Regions from separate parts of the Homo sapiens genome. Here region 1 is linked to region 2. The links come from fine-mapping of genetic effects on gene expression. Tissue or cell type: whole blood. Region 2 holds a variant in brackets; the other region holds the start of a gene. All regions are shown on one strand. Distances are from middle to middle.

Region 1 (8,086 bases), 96 kb before region 2:
GGACTCCCCGCTGGATGCTCTGGACCTCGTGTGGGCCAAATGCCGAGGCTATCCATCATACCCAGCTCTGGTATGCTTGCTTCTGTTACACTTCTTGCTTTCCAATCCCAGAATACAGATTCACAGTTAGCAGACTTTTCCTACTCCCTGCTGAGCTGTGGGGCACAGAGTTTCTTGGTAAGGTAGACTGGTGGGCAGATACAGCTTGAGTACCACTTAGAGGCTCCCACTCAGTTTCTCCATCTCTCCCTTTTGCTTCTCTTTGCTCCTTGGGCTCTGAAATAATTTAGCATGGAAAGAAGCTGAGGGTCAGCATTGCAGTTCTAGTAGCATGATACCCTCTCTGTCCCCACTTCAGACATACTCTCTAAGTTCTTGAGGAGGAAAAGCCTTGGGAGGACATGGACTGAACCAAACTGGGCTCTTATTATATCCTCAGATCATTGATCCAAAGATGCCCCGAGAAGGTATGTTCCACCATGGGGTTCCCATCCCTGTGCCCCCACTGGAGGTGCTGAAACTTGGGGAGCAGATGACCCAGGAAGCCCGAGAGCATCTCTACCTCGTCCTCTTCTTTGACAACAAACGAACCTGGTAAGGAGGGGAGCATTTGGTGTGACTCACAGCCACAGATGCAGCCCTGTGTGGTATGGGGGCAGACTGCCAGGAAACTCCAGCAACAGGCAGACTGGGCTATCACAAGTCAGTGGGGGAGGGACTTAGAACAGTTTTTTGAGCGAAAGGGTTGTGTCGACCATGTGTCTGAGAGGCTGAGTGGGCACTAGTGGACACAGCTATAGCTAGAAACCAAAGGACCATCAGAGACTTATGACAAATATAGAGGTGGCTCCCACCCAGACTCAGATGGCTTCTAGACTTAGTTTTCCCACCTCTGCCTCCACAGTGACAAAATGAGGATAAAGCAGGCATAAACATTCAGGCTCTGAATCCCTGTTCTGTCACATTTACACATGTAGTCTTTTTGTTAATTGTCTGCAGAGGATATTCAATGTCAGTAAAGTCTGCCTAGAGCCTATGGCACAGGGTAGCTATTTCTGGTGAGGTCAGGGTGCCTCCTTTTTGTACCCATAAATACCCTGTGATTACCCTCCCGCCGCCACCACACAGTATAACTGTTGACTGGGCTCTTTCATCTCTAGACCATGAACAGTCCTTTGAGGGCAGGGACCATCACAGAGTCTGGCCAGAGTGGGTGCTTGGGTGGTGTGTTTGAGTGAATAGAGGAGGAAGGCTGGTCCTTGTTCTCCCTGAGATGATTTATTTGATCTTCACCTTATCCTATAGGCAGTGGCTGCCCAGGACCAAGCTGGTTCCTCTGGGTGTGAACCAGGACCTAGACAAGGAGAAGATGCTGGAGGGCCGCAAGTCCAACATCCGCAAGTCAGTACAGATCGCCTACCACAGGGCTCTGCAGCACCGCAGCAAGGTGCAAGGCGAGCAGAGCAGTGAGACCAGCGATAGTGATTGATACTGCTCAACACAGCCCAACCTATAGTGCCCTGTGACTTCTCTCCTCCCCTTTGCTCACTGTCCTGGAGTGGCACCGGCCTCTGCACTGACTCATTTCTGGTCTTGGGGCCAGTCTCAGGGGAAGCTGGGTGGGGGAGGTCCCTCCTGCCCTAAGTGCAGCTGGACTGTACAGAACACTCCAAGGGCCAATGGCAGTTCAGCGCAAGGAGAGGGAGGGCCCACAGGTCAGAAAAAGCTCCAGAGACCTCACAGCATTGTAGGGCGGGGTGGTGGGCCAAAGTTAGGACACTGCGTAAAACAGGCCATCCCACCACCTCTACCTGCTCATGCCAGGAGAATCCATAACTGCCTAGAGGCCTGGGGCCCCTACCGGTCGTGAGGTGAGTGGGCATCTGTCCAGCCTGGAAGAGGGGCACTAGGTGACTCCCTCCCCTGCTGTTGTAAATACTGTAATTATCGGAGAATTTAAATTATTCTCATTTGTAACTGCGTTTCCGGGTCGCGCCAGAGTCATTTGGTACTAAAAAAAAAAAAAAAAAAGACTGGGGGCTGTCCCCATTTCCCTTCTCTTTCCCATAGATTCCCCCACCTTTCAAACTGGTTTGTATTTATTTCAAAGGAAGAAAATATATTGATTCTTAGAAAATAAACTGTCAATTTAGAATTCTTTGTTCTTGCCCCCTGCCAGGGCAAAGGGGATACAAAGGGAGGTTCTGTGCCCCAGGGATGATACATAATTGGGCCCAAGTGGTTGCTGACTGCTGTGCATGCTACATTTCATAAGACACAGCAAAGAGAGCCCCTGTTGCCCATGCATGGAGTGAGTGGCAGGCCCTGTGTTGAGCACCTTTAGACATTCAGCTTTGCGTAATCCTTGCAATAACTATAGGGTAGTTTAATAATAGACTGGTTATCTCCACAAAGATGCTGAAGTTTCAAAAAATTATCTTGCCTAAGTTCCTACAACTAGGAAGGTGCAGAGCTAGAATTGGAACCCAGGTCTGTTTGCAAACCTGGCTCTTCAACCAGTATGCTGAACTGCCAGGGGAAGAGTCAACTATCGATTCCTACTTGGCCCTTAGAGGCCTCAAGTCCTTTGCCAGTGGCATGGCCCAAGTGTTTCAGCATCAATACAGCTGAGACCTTCCCCACTGCTTAACCGGAGACAGAGCTGGGATGGAGACGGTTGCTCTTTGCTCACCCCCAACCTCAGCACCTTCTTTCCAGACTCCACCGACATTTATTGAAGGAATGCCTTCCAAGTGCTAGGCGCCTGTGGGATGGCATGCCTACAGATAGGAACAGTCACAGGAAGAAGGGGCGGCCCAGGCCTTGCAGCCACTGAGGACTGGCACTGAGACAATGATGGCACTGGTCTGATGTTGATTCCATGCTGACGGTACACTCCGCTAGGTCTCTGGCTGGGACACAAGGGTCAATCCGCTGCAGATGTTGCTCTTCAAGAATTTGCAGTCTGGGCGGGGTGCGGTGGCTCACGCCTGTAATCCCAACACTTTAAGAGGCCGAGGCGGCTGGATCACGAGGTCAAGAGATCGAGACCATGCTAGCCAACATGGTGAAACCCCATCTCTACTAAAAATACAAAAATTAGCTGGGCGTGGTGGCGCGCACCTGTAGTCCCAGCTACTCGGGAGGCTGAGGCAGGAGAATCGCTTGAACCCGGGAGGCGGAGCTTGCAGTGAGCCGAGATCGCGCCATCACACTCCAGCCTAGGCGACAGAGTGAGACTCCGTCTCAAAGAAAAAAAACTTGCAGCCTGATAGTTAAGATACAGCAACCCCAAATCCCTATGCTAAAAGGTGAGAATGGCCCAGATAAAGGTCATGTCTCCTAGCTCCCTGCTTTTTCATGCCATCCTCCAGAAGGGAAGAAATTAAATAATCCATCCTCCTACTCCAGGCGACTAGAAGGCAGGCTGCCTCAGGGCCACACACTGGGACTTGGACTCAACCTGATGGGCTTCTGGGCCCAGCCCCAGACAAACCCCCGGCAAACGTCCCATTCCGAGGAAAGCATGAGCAGATGGAGTATGGAAGAAATGCCCAAGACGGCAGGCAGCAGCTGTGGCGGCCGGCGGGACGACAATCCGAGGAGAGGCCTCTGATGTCCTGAGGTCTCAGAGGACGCCTAAAGGCCTTGAATGGGACAAGCTTAGCGGGCGGGCGCAGAAGAGAATAATACTCTGGAGACACTTCCCGAGGGCTCTGGGGCCGGAGCTGTGTTCGCTCCGGTTCTTGGTGAAGACAGGGTTCGTGGGAGGCGGCCCAAGGAGGGCGAACGCCTAAGACTGCAAAGGCTCGGGGGAGAACGGCTCTCGGAGAACGGGCTGGGGAAGGACGTGGCTCTGAAGACGGACAGCCCTGAGGAACCGCGGGGCGCCCAGATGGAACTCGTTAGCGCCCCGAGTGCAGACAATCCCGGAGGGGGAAAGGCGAGCAGCTGGCAGAGAGCCCAGTGCCGGCCAACCGCGCGAGCGCCTCAGAACGGCCCGCCCACCCTGATTTCTCATTGGCGCCTCCTACCTCCTCCTCGGATTGGCTACCTCTAGGTGAAATGAGCGGTGGTTGAGCCCTACTTCCGGTGGTGCTGTGGTCTGCCCCTGGAGAACCCAGAAGAACACAGCTGTGCGCGCCCACAGGCTCTGGGGGCGGGAGAAGATAAGTCGCAAGGAGGGGGCGGGACCTACACCTCAGGAAAGCCGGAGAATTGGGGCACGAAGCGGGGCTTTGATGACCCGCAAAGGGCGAGGCATGCAGGAGGTGGAGGAATTAAGTGAAACAGGGAAGGTTGTTAAACAGCACCGTGTGGGCGAGGCCTTAAGGGTCGTGGTCCTTGTCTGGGCGGGGTCTTTGGGCGTCGACGAGGCCTGGTTCTGGGTAGGCGGGGCTACTACGGGGCGGTGCCTGCTGTGGAAATGCCTGCCCGCGCGCTTCTGCCCAGGCGCATGGGGCATCGTACTCTAGCCTCCACTCCTGCCCTGTGGGCCTCCATCCCGTGCCCTCGCTCTGAGCTGCGCCTGGACCTGGTTCTGCCTTCTGGACAATCTTTCCGGTGAGTGACTGAGCCTGAGAAGCCTGTCCCCTCGGACTGGCTCCTGCCGCCTCAACACTGCCTGGCATGGGGTACAAAGGAATTTGGGGGATGATGGAAGAAACCCGGGGTACAAAAGAGGAAACAAGCACGGGTAGCCAACCTGTTACCTTTAATATGTCTGTACAGTGATAATTGTAAGGATCCAGCGGTATAACCGATGCAGAAGATAATAGCACTTGTTTTTCTTTTTTTGAGACAGGGTCTCGCTCTGTTGCCCAGGTAGGAATGCAGAGAGGCCCATTCCAGCCTCGACCCCCCGGGCGCAGCCTCCCGAGTAGCTGGGACTACAGGTGTGCGCCATGCCCGGTTAAATTTTTGTATTTTTTGTAGAGGTGAGGTTTCGCCATGTTGCTCAGACTGGAAGATAGCACTGTTACTTGTATTAGTTTCGTACATGGAGCTATTGTAGGATAGGAGGGACCCCAAAGGGTGCAAGAAAGGAAATTGAGTGCCAGGGTTGTCATGTGCCTTGGGCTCAGGTGGAGGGAGCAAAGTCCTGCACACTGGAGTGGTGTACTAGCGGATCAAGTATGGACACTGACTCAGACTGAGGAGCAGCTCCACTGCACTGTGTACCGAGGAGACAAGAGCCAGGCTAGCAGGCCCACACCAGACGAGCTGGAGGCCGTGCGCAAGTACTTCCAGCTAGATGTTACCCTGGCTCAACTGTATCACCACTGGGGTTCCGTGGACTCCCACTTCCAAGAGGTGGCTCAGAAATTCCAAGGTGAGTACAGGACCTGGGCTGGGGTTAGGGTTCTTGGACATAAGTCACTTCTCTATGACTCAGTTTTGCCACCTGTAAAATGGGGATTATATCTACTTCATAGGCTTTTATGAGGATTTAAGGAACTAATACATGTAAAGTGCTTAGAATAATGCCAGGCACATAGTAAGTATTATTACCATTATTATTATCCTGCTAATCACCATAGTGAAGTGACAAGGATTTTGAGCCCATTCCTGGTTGTGTGACCTAGGGCAAGTGATTTCATTCATTCTGTAAATATATACAAAGCATCTGCTGTGTGACCGGGGATACACCAGTGAACAAAACAGACCCAAATGCCAGTCCTCATGGAGCTTACATTGTGGCCTCTTTATCTGTGGAATGGGATGGTAACTCAGCCCTCACAAGATGCTATGAGGAATGAGAGGTCTGGTGTTGCTTTCTCTAACGGTGCTGACTCTCATTCTCCTGGGATCCTCCTGGAGTTTTGGTACCTAGGATCTGACCTGTGGGTGGGAAGAGGCCACACCCAACAGCAGGTACCTCTCCTACCCCCTGCATTTCTGGTCTCCAGGTGTGCGACTGCTGCGACAAGACCCCATCGAATGCCTTTTCTCTTTTATCTGTTCCTCCAACAACAACATCGCCCGCATCACTGGCATGGTGGAGCGGCTGTGCCAGGCTTTTGGACCTCGGCTCATCCAGCTTGATGATGTCACCTACCATGGCTTCCCCAGCCTGCAGGCCCTGGCTGGTGAGTAGGTGGGTCCCCTGCCCCCAGGCCTTCCATCAGCTTTCAAGATCTGTTCATTTCTCCCCTGGTTACCTTCTCAAGGCTTCCTGCCTTCCCAAACACTTCCCCTATCCAGAACCGCCCTGCCTGGTCTGATCAACTCCAGTTACTCATCCTCCCTATGCATCCCTAAAATGTCAGCACCTCACTGGTCTGTGCTTTTTGCCCAATGGGTTCAATGCCTAATCAGAAAAATATCTGTATACAATGTACAGTAGTTTGGGGTTAAGAGCATGCATTCTGGGGACAGACCCATGCCTGGTTCTGAACCCCAACTCTCACTTGGGCACATTATTTAGCATCTCTGTACTAAAGTTTCTTCATCTGTGAAGTAGAATAATAATAGCACCTACCTATGCTATTATTGGAGTTGTCATGAGGGTTGAAGAAAGGAATATACATACTGCACCTAGCACAGTGTTTGGCACACAGGAAGTATATGTAAAATTCAAGCTGGTATCAGCCAGGCGCAGTGGCTCACACCTGGCTAACACAGTGAAACCCCGTCTCCAGCCTGGGCAACAGAGCGAGACTCTGTCTCAAAAAAAAAAAAAAAAAAAAAAATTCAAGCTGGTATCATTGTAGTGAATGGGATAGTTTTGTATCTAAGAACACGTGTGTTCTTCACAGTAGCCCTGTAAGGCAAATGTTTTACAGAGGCAAGTGTATCGATTGGCAGATGTGAGAACCAAGCTAGGACAAGTGCTTGGGAACTGCATAGCAAAGAGACAGACTGCCTCAAAACAGGAGAATGTTTTTGGTGCTTAGAAACCCATTCCTGGCCGGGCGTGGTGGCTCACGCCTGTAATCCCAACACTTTGGGAGGTCGAGGCAGGCAGATCATCTGAGGTCAGGAGTTCAAGACCAGCCTGGCCAACATGGTGAAACCCCATCTCTACTAAAAATACGAAAATTAGTCAGGCGTGATGGCAGGCACCTGTCCCAGCTACTCCGGAGGGTGAGGCAGGAGAATTGCTTGAACCCGGGAGCAGGAGGCTCCAGTGAACCAAGATCAGACCACAGCACTCCAGCCTGGGTTACAGAGCGAGACTCCATCTCAAAACAAACAAAAAGAAACCTGGGTCAGGCACGGTGGCTCACACCTGTAATCCCAACACTTTGGGAGGCTGAGGCAGGTGGATCACCTGAGGTCGGGAGTTTGAGACCAGACTGGCCAACCTGGTGAAACCCGCTCTCTGCTAAAAATTAGCTGGGCGTGGTGGCAGGTACCTGTAATCCCAGCTACTCAGGAGGCTGAGGCGGGAGAATCATTTGAACCTGGGAAGCAGAGGTTGCAGTGAGCTGAGATCATGCCATTGCACTCCAGCCTGGGCGACAGGGCGACAGGGCGAGACTCCGTCTCAAAAAAAAAAAAAAAACCTGGCCGGGCGTGGTGGCTCACACCCGTAATCCCAGCATTTTGGGAGGCCGAGGCGGGTGGATCACGAGGTCAGGAGATCAAGACCATCCTGCCTAATACGGTGAAACCCCGTCTCTACTAAAAATACAAAAAAAATTAGCCGGGTGTGGTGGTGGGCGCCTGTAGTCCCAGCTACTTGGGAGGCTGAGGCAGGAGAATGGCGTGAACCCGGGAGGCGAAGCTTGCAGTGAGCCGAGATCGTGCCACTGCACTCCAGCCTGGGCGACAGAGTGAGACTCTGTCTCAACAAAAAAAAAAAGAAACCTGTTCTTGAGTCTCAGCTCCTGGCTTAGTTAGTCATAAGGCCTCAAGAAAGTCATTCACCTCTTCCGGCTTCTCTTAGCTTGTTTGTAGAATGGGAATAACAGTTTCTATCTAGAAGGGCTTTGGGAGTGAATAAAGCAATCATGAGGCAGTGTAGTGTAATGGGTTAAGAGCACGGCGTTAGCCAGGTGGGGTAGCTCATGCTGGTAATTTCAGCACTTTTGGGAGCCCAAGGTGGGAGGATGGCTTGAGCCCAGGAGTTTGAGACCAGCCT
Region 2 (8,102 bases):
TTGCCCAGGCTGGTCTCGAACTCCTGGGCTCAAGTGATCCTCTTGCCTTGGCCTCCAGAAGTGTTGGGATTACAGGTGTGAGTCACTGTGCCCAGCGTCAGGGAGGTGTCATGCTTTGCCTGGTATCACACCATTTGTACTTGAGGATTTGAACCCAGAGCCATCGGCTTCCTCTTCTTCACAGTACTTGTATCCACCTCTATGATCTCAAACCTTCCCATGGAAAATGTCTCAGCTTATCCCCAAGCAGCTGTTTCCCCACCACAGATGGATGCCTGTACTCCTAGCTTCCTGTCACCCCTACCACTTACTTCCCAGATGCTCGGACAACCTGAAGCTCCTGCTCCCTGAGCCCTAGGGACTGGCTCAGCTCTGGCAGCACTGAGAACAACGTCAGCTCTCCTGGTTTTCCTGGAAAGTAAGAAAGAAAAATTACAAGAGGCCAAAGCTTCATGCCTTCACTTTTCCCTCCCTCAGTCACGAAACCCCCTTCCGCTGCATTCCCTTCCCACATCCCCGGCCCATACCTGTCACTGGTAGACCCTGTGGCTTGTTCAACGTCACTAGAGGTCCTGAAACATACATCACACGAACATCAGCAAAAGCAACGGTAACCCTTTATGCAGCACTAAAGAGTTTCCAGAGCACTTTCTCACGCATCTTAGCACATGTCCCCATCATGACTCTCAGACATGAGTTAACTACCCCACACCAAATTCAACTTCTTTCTGTTCCTCTGCCACCTCAGAGCCTCGGCACTTGCTGTTTCCTGTCCCCAAATTTCCCAGGTCTGGCTCCCTATCATCTTGGCTCAAATGTCACATCACGGAGAGGTCTGAATCTCCAATCTAATGTCTGCCTTCCTCCTGCAGTTCCTCACCATCATAACACCCTGTTTTAGTTTATGCATAGCACTTACCACTAGTAACTTGTTCATTTATTTTCTGACATCCATTTCTCCCGTTAGAGAGAAATCCATTTCTCCCCTGAGAGCAGAAACCATATCTATCTTTTTCAGCACTGTATAGCCTGCCTAGAACAGTGCCTGGAACATAGCATATGTTCAAGAAATAGTTGAGAAAAGGAATAAATCACTGAATAGAGAGTGGGGTTCAGAGAAATTCAGTTATTTTCCTAAAGCCGCACAGCAAGCTGATCACAGAGCCTAGGTATGTCTGACTCCAAAGCCTGTGTTTTGTCCGTCGATAAATAATCATTATTTATTTATTTATTTATTTAGACTGAGTCTTGCTCTGTCATCCCAGGCTGGAGCGCAGTAGCACGATGTCGGCTCACTGCAACCTCTGCTATCCGGGTTCAAGTGACTCTCCTGCCTCAGCCTCCCGAGTAGCTGGGATTACAGGCGGACGCCGCCACACCTGGCTAATTTTTGTGTTTTTAGTAGAGACGGGGTTTCACCATGTTGGCCAGGCTAGTCTCGAACTCCTGACCTCAGGTGATCCGCCCGCGTCAGCACCCTAAAGTGCCGGGATTACAGGCGTGAGCCACCGCGGCCAATAAACAATAATCTAGTATAGCAACTCCCGTAACTGAGCGCCGGCTATGTGCAAGGCTCGGTAGTTATTTGCATCTTCTCCCCACTCTTAACCCTACTGCATCATGGCAGTAGGGTTAAAAGCGGGGAGAGGGTGCAAATTAGGTGGCTTGTCCCAGCTCATGCTGCTAGTGGGAGGCAGAAGCAGGGCTGATCCCGTGGCTTCAATGGAGAGCCCAACTGCACGCCGAGGCAGTCCCCTCCCGGTCCTTGTGCGGCCGTGCCTCTCACCCCTCACCTTTCCGGTCCACCACGGCTGCCCGCAGCGCATCAACCAGCTCCTCCCGACTGAGGTTTTTTGGCAGCAGCCCCGCGAAGGGCTGGTCCCCGAGGGGCCCCGACCGTTGGCAGGAGCCGCGGGGTTGCCTCTGATGCCTGGACAAGGAGGGAGAAGCAATGGGAGTCATTCCATCCCGAGGTGCCACCCATTCCTATCTCCGGACGCCTCTTCCCAAATCCTGCGGCCTCTGACAAATGCCTCACAATGTCTGGGCTGACCTCGAAAATTCAGGTACGACCGGTCCCATTCTACAGCGGAGGGCACCGAGGCTCAGAGAGGCCAACGGGGCTGTTTTCGGGTAACATCTACCTGATCCAGATCCCGCACGTGCCTTCCCCCTGCCCTAGCCTCCGTCCCGCATGAGAGAGGGGGTACTTAATCACCGGGCTTCGGTGCCAAAGCCTGCGTCCTCGGGCACTGGGCGGACACCCAGGCCCCGCCGCCAGCCACTCCAGAACCGGCCCAAAACACGGCGGCCGTCCATCTCCCGAGCCAGGACAGCGCGCATGTGCGTCCAGAGGGGCAGACCCGCGCTCCAGCCAGCGCGCTGATTGGTCAGCTGGAGTGTCAATCGGAATGGTGACCGGGCGGGACTCAGAGCCTGAGGAGGCGGGGCTTTTCCTCCGCCCAGGAAGGAAATGCAGAAATGCCTTCCTATGCTTTTAGGGAGAGCGCTGTAGCAGAAGAATTTGATCTGATCAAAAAACCTGTCTTAGCAAAAAACCTGAAGCCGCCTTTGCAAAAATTATATTACAAAATTATGACAGCGAAAGAGATCTGATCTAACCAACCCGCAGCTTGCCTTTAACCTCTAAACGGTCCTTGGTCATTCCTGGGCTTGGGCCAAGCTAACTTTGGGAGAAATTAGTTCGTAGTCTAAATGATAATTGCCCTTCCCCCGAACTAAACTGGCTTCATAGAGTTAATGAAAGGCCACCAGGTTAGGAGTAGTAGAGGGACCTGAATTCTGCTAAGGGTTAGAGGTAACTGATTACCAGCGGTTATTCCGGAGGTCACAGTGTTTGCAGCTTCCCCAGCTCACGATTGTCCAACCTGAGATTGGCCTTTGGAGATGTCTTTCCAGGCTTTTGCATTTCTGACGGCCGGATCACCCCACCCGGACCCTCAACTCTTGGCTCTACTAGTCCTGTGGCCCCTCGAAGTCAGGAGATCGAGACCATCCTGGCTAACACGGTGAAACCACGTCTCCACCAAAAATACAAAAAAATTAGCCGGGCGTGGTGGC[G/A]GGCGCCTGTAGTCCCAGCTACTCGGGAGGCTGAGGCAGGAGAATGGCGTGAACCCGGGAGGCGGAGTTTGCAGTGAGCCGAGATCGTGCCACTGCACTCCAGCCTGGGCGACGAGCGAGACTCCGTCTCAAAAAAAAAAAAAAAAGAAAAAAGAAAAAGAAAGTAGAAGAACACAGAAAAAAAAGAATAATATAATGACTGCCCACATTCCTACCATCAGAATTAGTCATTGTGAAACAATATATATATGTATAGGTTTCCTGTTTTTCTTGTTTAAGAAATGAAAGGGATAAAAGTAAATTCCCCTTTACTGCGTGCTTCCAGTTTTCACTCCCTCCCCAGTCTCCACTTTGAGTTTGGTGTGAACATTTTCCTAATGTGTTTTGGTTTTTGTTTTTTGGAGACAGAGTCTCGCTCTGTCACCCAGGCTAGAGTGCAGTGGCCCGATCTCGACTCACTGCAACTTCCACCTCCCGGGTTCAAGCGATTCCCCTGCCTTTGCCTCCTGAGTAGCTGGAATTACAGGTGCGGTGCCCGCCACCACACCCGGCTAATTTTTTGTATTTTAGTGACGGGGTTTCACCATGTCGCCCAGGCTGGTCTCGAACTCCTGAGCTCAGGCAATCCGCCCGCCTTGGCCTCCCAAAGTGCTAGGATTACAGACGTGAGCCACTGTGCCCGGCCACTAATGTGTTTTTTTGCTTGCTCTGTCATCCAGGCTGGAGTGCAGTGGCACAATCACAGCTCACTGCAGCCTCAACCTCCCAGGCTCAAACGATCCTCCCACTTCAGTCTCCTGAATAGCTGGGACTACAGGTGTGCACCACCATACCTAGCTTTTTTTTTTTTTTTTTTTTTTTTTAAAGATATGGGGTCTCACGATGTTGCCCAGGCTGGTCTCAAACTCCTGGGCTCAAGATAAGAAAATAAAAATAACAAAATAATTTTTAAAAAATCAAACTCCTGGGTTTAAGGGATTCACCCACCTACTTCGGCCTCCCAGAGTGCTGGGATTAAAGGCCGCACGGGGCCTTTGACAGACACTTCTTTTTTTTTTTCCTTCGAGATGGAGTCTCACTCTGTCACCCGGGCTGGAGTTCAGTGGCACGATCTTGGCTCACTGCAACCTCTGCCTCCTGGGTTCAAGCAATTCTCCTGCCCCAGCCTCCCAAGTAGCTGATACTACAGGCATGCACCATCATACCTGCCTAATTTTTTGTATTTTTTAGTAGAGATGGGGTTTCACCATGTTGACCAGGCTGGTCTCAAACTCCCGACCTCAGGTGATCCACCTGCCTCAGCCTCCCAAAGTGTTGGGATTACAGGTGTGAGCCACCGTGCCCGGCCTTTGACGGACACTTTCTAATAGGCTTTTTCATCCAGCATTACACACCCCTATGAGGAAGGCAGGGTGGGTTGGGGCCCTGCCTTACAGATGAGGACACAGTGGCTGTTGTGGTTCTTTGTGTCCCTTAAAGGCATGCCAAAAGCTATGGGTGGGCTCAGAATGCCCCGGAAGGAAGTCAGATAACTGAAAAGAACACTTGCACTGGTCACAGGAAAACCAGCCTGAGCTGCCGGCAGCCTCTGGGAGGTGTTGGGATGGCCTGCCCCTGGTTTCCATGCGGGTCCTGACCCAGAGAGCAGGCCCCAGGGGAGTGGGGGTCAGCAGAGGCAGGATGGGGCCCGGTCTGCTTGTGAGGGAGTGCTGGGAGGGTGGAGTCTCACTCTTGAGGCACAGAGCTCAGCCAGCGGAAGAGGGGATGCAGGGATCAAGCCCCAGGCCCTGGGGCCTGAGGTGTGAGAGCTGTCTTTGATGGTTGAAGCCAGCCTTCCCAGGCCAGGCCAGGCCAGGCTGCTCTCTCTCCCCGAGGATGCATTTCTTGCTCTGTTATCAGCCCTGAGCTCTGAGAGAAGGGACTTTCTTTTTTTTTTTTTGAGACAGAGTCTTGCTCTGTTGCCCAGGCTGGAGTACAATGGCGTGATCTCGGCTCGCTACAACCTCTGCCTTCTGGGTTGAAGCGATTCTCTAGCTGCAGCCTCCCAAGTAACAGAGATTACAGGCGCCTGCCACCACACCCTGCTAAGTTTTGTATTTTCAGTAGAGAAAGGGGTTCACCATGTTGACCAAGCTGGTCTTGAACTCCTGGCCTCAAGTTATCCACCCGACTCGGCCTCCTAAAGTGCTGGGATTACTGTCATGAGCCACTGAACCTGGCCAGGAGGGACTTTCTTAAGAAGGTCACAAGAGGACTCAGCACCTGCCAACTCCCAAGTAGAGCCTGGGCAGGGGTGGGAGGTGTCCCCGGGGACCCCAGTGCACGAGAGCCCTGTGCCTGCACGGCCCTCCACCAGGAGGCCAGGCCTCAGAGGCAGGCCAGCATTGGAGCCACTTACCACATGAACAAATGTCTGTGTCCCCCCAAACTCATGTGTTGACACCTCATCCCCAAGGTGATGGCATCTGGAGGTGGCATCTTTGGGAGGTGATGGGGTCATGAGGGTGGGGCCCTTGTGGTTGGGATTAGCGCCCTTATACAAGAGGCCCCAGAGAGCTCCCTCGCCCCTTCCGCCATGTGACCACAGTGGGAAGATGGCAGGCATGACCCAGAAAGTGGGCCCTCACCAGACACCCTGTATGCCAGCTGATCTTGGACTGCCAGCCTCCAGAACTGTGAACATTATATTGCTGTTGTTAGAGAGACCCAATTTACAGTATTTTGTCACAGCAGCCCCAACAGACTAAGACGTATGACTGCAAGCTCTGAAAATGCAGCCAACACCACATGTTGGAATCATGATATTTGGGATGTGTTGGGGTAAACCACATGCATTAGTAAAATAAACTGTTCAACACCTGTGAAAAGGAGAGAAAAAATATAAATAAATGAAATAAACTATTACTTTCTGAAGGGGTGGGTTGTCCCTCCACACCTGTGGGTGTTTCTTGTTAGGTGGAACGAGAGACTTGGAAAAGAAAAAGACACAGAGACAAAGTATAGAGAAAGAAATAAGGGGGCCCAGGGGACCAGCGTTCAGCATATGGAGGATCCCGCCAGCCTCTGAGTTCCCTTAGTATTTATTGATCATTCTTGGGTGTTTCTCGGAGAGGGGGATGTGGCAGGGTCATAGGATAATAGTGGAGAGAAGGTCAGCAGATAAACACGTGAACAAAGGTCTCTGCATCATGGACAAGGTAAAGAATTAAGTGCTGTGCTTTAGATATGCATACACATAAAACATCTCAATGCCTTACAGAGCAGTATTGTTGCCCGCATGTCCCACCTCCAGCCCTAAGGCGGTTTTCCCCTATCTCAGTAGATGGAACATACAATCGGGTTTTATACCGAGACATTCCATTGCCCAGGGGACATTCCATTGCCCGGGGACGGGCAGGAGACAGATGCCTTCCTCTTGTCTCAACTGCAAAGAGGCATGCCTTCCTCTTTTACTAATCCTCCTCAGCACAGACCCTTTACAGGTGTCGGGCTGGGGGACGGTCAGGTCTTTCCCTTCCCACGAGGCCATATTTCAGACTATCACATGGGGAGAAACCTTGGACAATACCTGGCTTTCCCAGGCAGAGGACCCTGCGGCCTTCCGCAGTGTTTGTGTCCCTGGGTACTTGAGATTAGGGAGTGGTGATGATTCTTAACAAGCATGCTGCCTTCAAGCATCTGTTGAACAAAGCACATCTTGCACCGCCCTTAATCCATTTAACCCTGAGTGGACACAGCACATGTTTCAGAGAGCACGGGGTTGGGGGTAAGGTTATAGATTAACAGCATCTCAAGGCAGAATAATTTTTCTTAGTACAGAGCAAAATGGAGTCTCCTATGTCTACTTATTTCTACACGACACAGTAACAATCTGATCTCTCTTTTCCCCACATTTCCCCCTTTTCTTTTCGACAAAACTGCCATCATCATCATGGCCCGTTCTTGATGGTCGCTGTCTCTTCAGAGCTGTTGGGTACACCTGCAGACTTGAACAACAGACAAAACAGGCACACAAGGATTAATATGAAATTTATAATCGTAGTACTTCCAATCGTCTTAACCCAAGTGACAGGGTTAAGATTTGTGAGGCCATCAGCAACTCCTGCGATTGCCTCAGTTCCTGGCACCAAATTTAAATGGGCTTTTGATGTTTTGAAAATTTGTTCTTTTAATTTGGAAATGTCTAAAGTGAGATTATCTTCTCTTGCCTGTAGATGGCGTCTAACCATGTCCCAGTGATGCTCAGACTCATTACAACTTGGGGTGTAATACAAAAATCTGACATATTCCAGTCACATTGTAACTGGAAACGATGTTCTAAGCTCATGAGCCTGTCTCCCATCCAAATGACAGTTTGTCTAAAATCATTAATTTGATTTGCCAATTTTTGATCAATACCAGATTGTGAATTCCACAATCTTGTAGCATTTTTTTGCCAATCATTAACAAAGTTTACTGACTGAACAGAAGAGTGCAGCGCAACTCCTGCCACAGCAGCCGTAGCTGTGACTGCAATTAATCCCATAAGCACTGTAATTAAAGTAAAAATGAATCTTTTGGATCTATTTAAAATGGCTTTTAATATTCAGTCAAAATATGGACGGATGGCGAGGCCTCCCACGGTCGGTCCATGGACACAGGGATCCACACGCCCTCTCTTGCTCTCACCAGCAGAATACGGTGCTGCCGATTAAAAGTCGAATCAATGCAAGTAAACTATCTACTTTTTACAGGTTATAGTTTGAGAGTCTGGTTTAATAACTATATTTCCTACAACTAGCATATAAGGGGGCTTTACACAACTTTGTAAAGGAACCGTTAGACTGGAATTTAGGTCGATAGTATAAAACGGCTGATGATCTCTTGTTTCTAAAGTTTGATTTCCAGACCAAATCCTAATGTGGTATGAGGCTACAGTAAGCCTCCATAATTCTGGATGTTCAGGACCAGAAACAGGACTTATTATTTTTGGTCTTGGGGTAGAGATTCCTTTTTCTCCCCATTCCCAGGGATAGAAAGAC

What was found. PIP is the estimated chance that this variant, and not a neighbour inherited with it, causes the effect.
Region 1: OGG1 starts here. The variant in region 2 is fine-mapped to the expression of OGG1 in whole blood (TOPMed, PIP above 0.99). The same link has a PIP of 0.9 or more in sun-exposed skin.

What each region holds. Positions count from the first base shown.
Region 1 is chr3:9,745,861-9,753,946 of GRCh38, forward strand. OGG1 (8-oxoguanine DNA glycosylase) reads left to right here and starts at 4,092. Exons shown (of 7, transcript NM_002542.6): 1 at 4,092-4,563; 2 at 5,085-5,332; 3 at 5,910-6,089. The coding sequence starts at 4,427. BRPF1 (bromodomain and PHD finger containing 1) reads left to right here. Exons shown (of 14, transcript NM_001003694.2): 12 at 1-70; 13 at 440-594; 14 at 1,306-2,155. The coding sequence ends at 1,489. RefSeq lists enhancers at 3,666-3,715, 3,746-3,865.
Region 2 is chr3:9,841,672-9,849,773 of GRCh38, forward strand. RPUSD3 (RNA pseudouridine synthase D3) reads right to left here and starts at 2,337. Exons shown (of 9, transcript NM_173659.5): 1 at 2,219-2,337; 2 at 1,794-1,930; 3 at 528-572; 4 at 312-411. The coding sequence starts at 2,319. RefSeq lists enhancers at 2,200-2,279, 6,824-7,684. The variant G/A (reference allele first, on the strand shown) is at 3,082.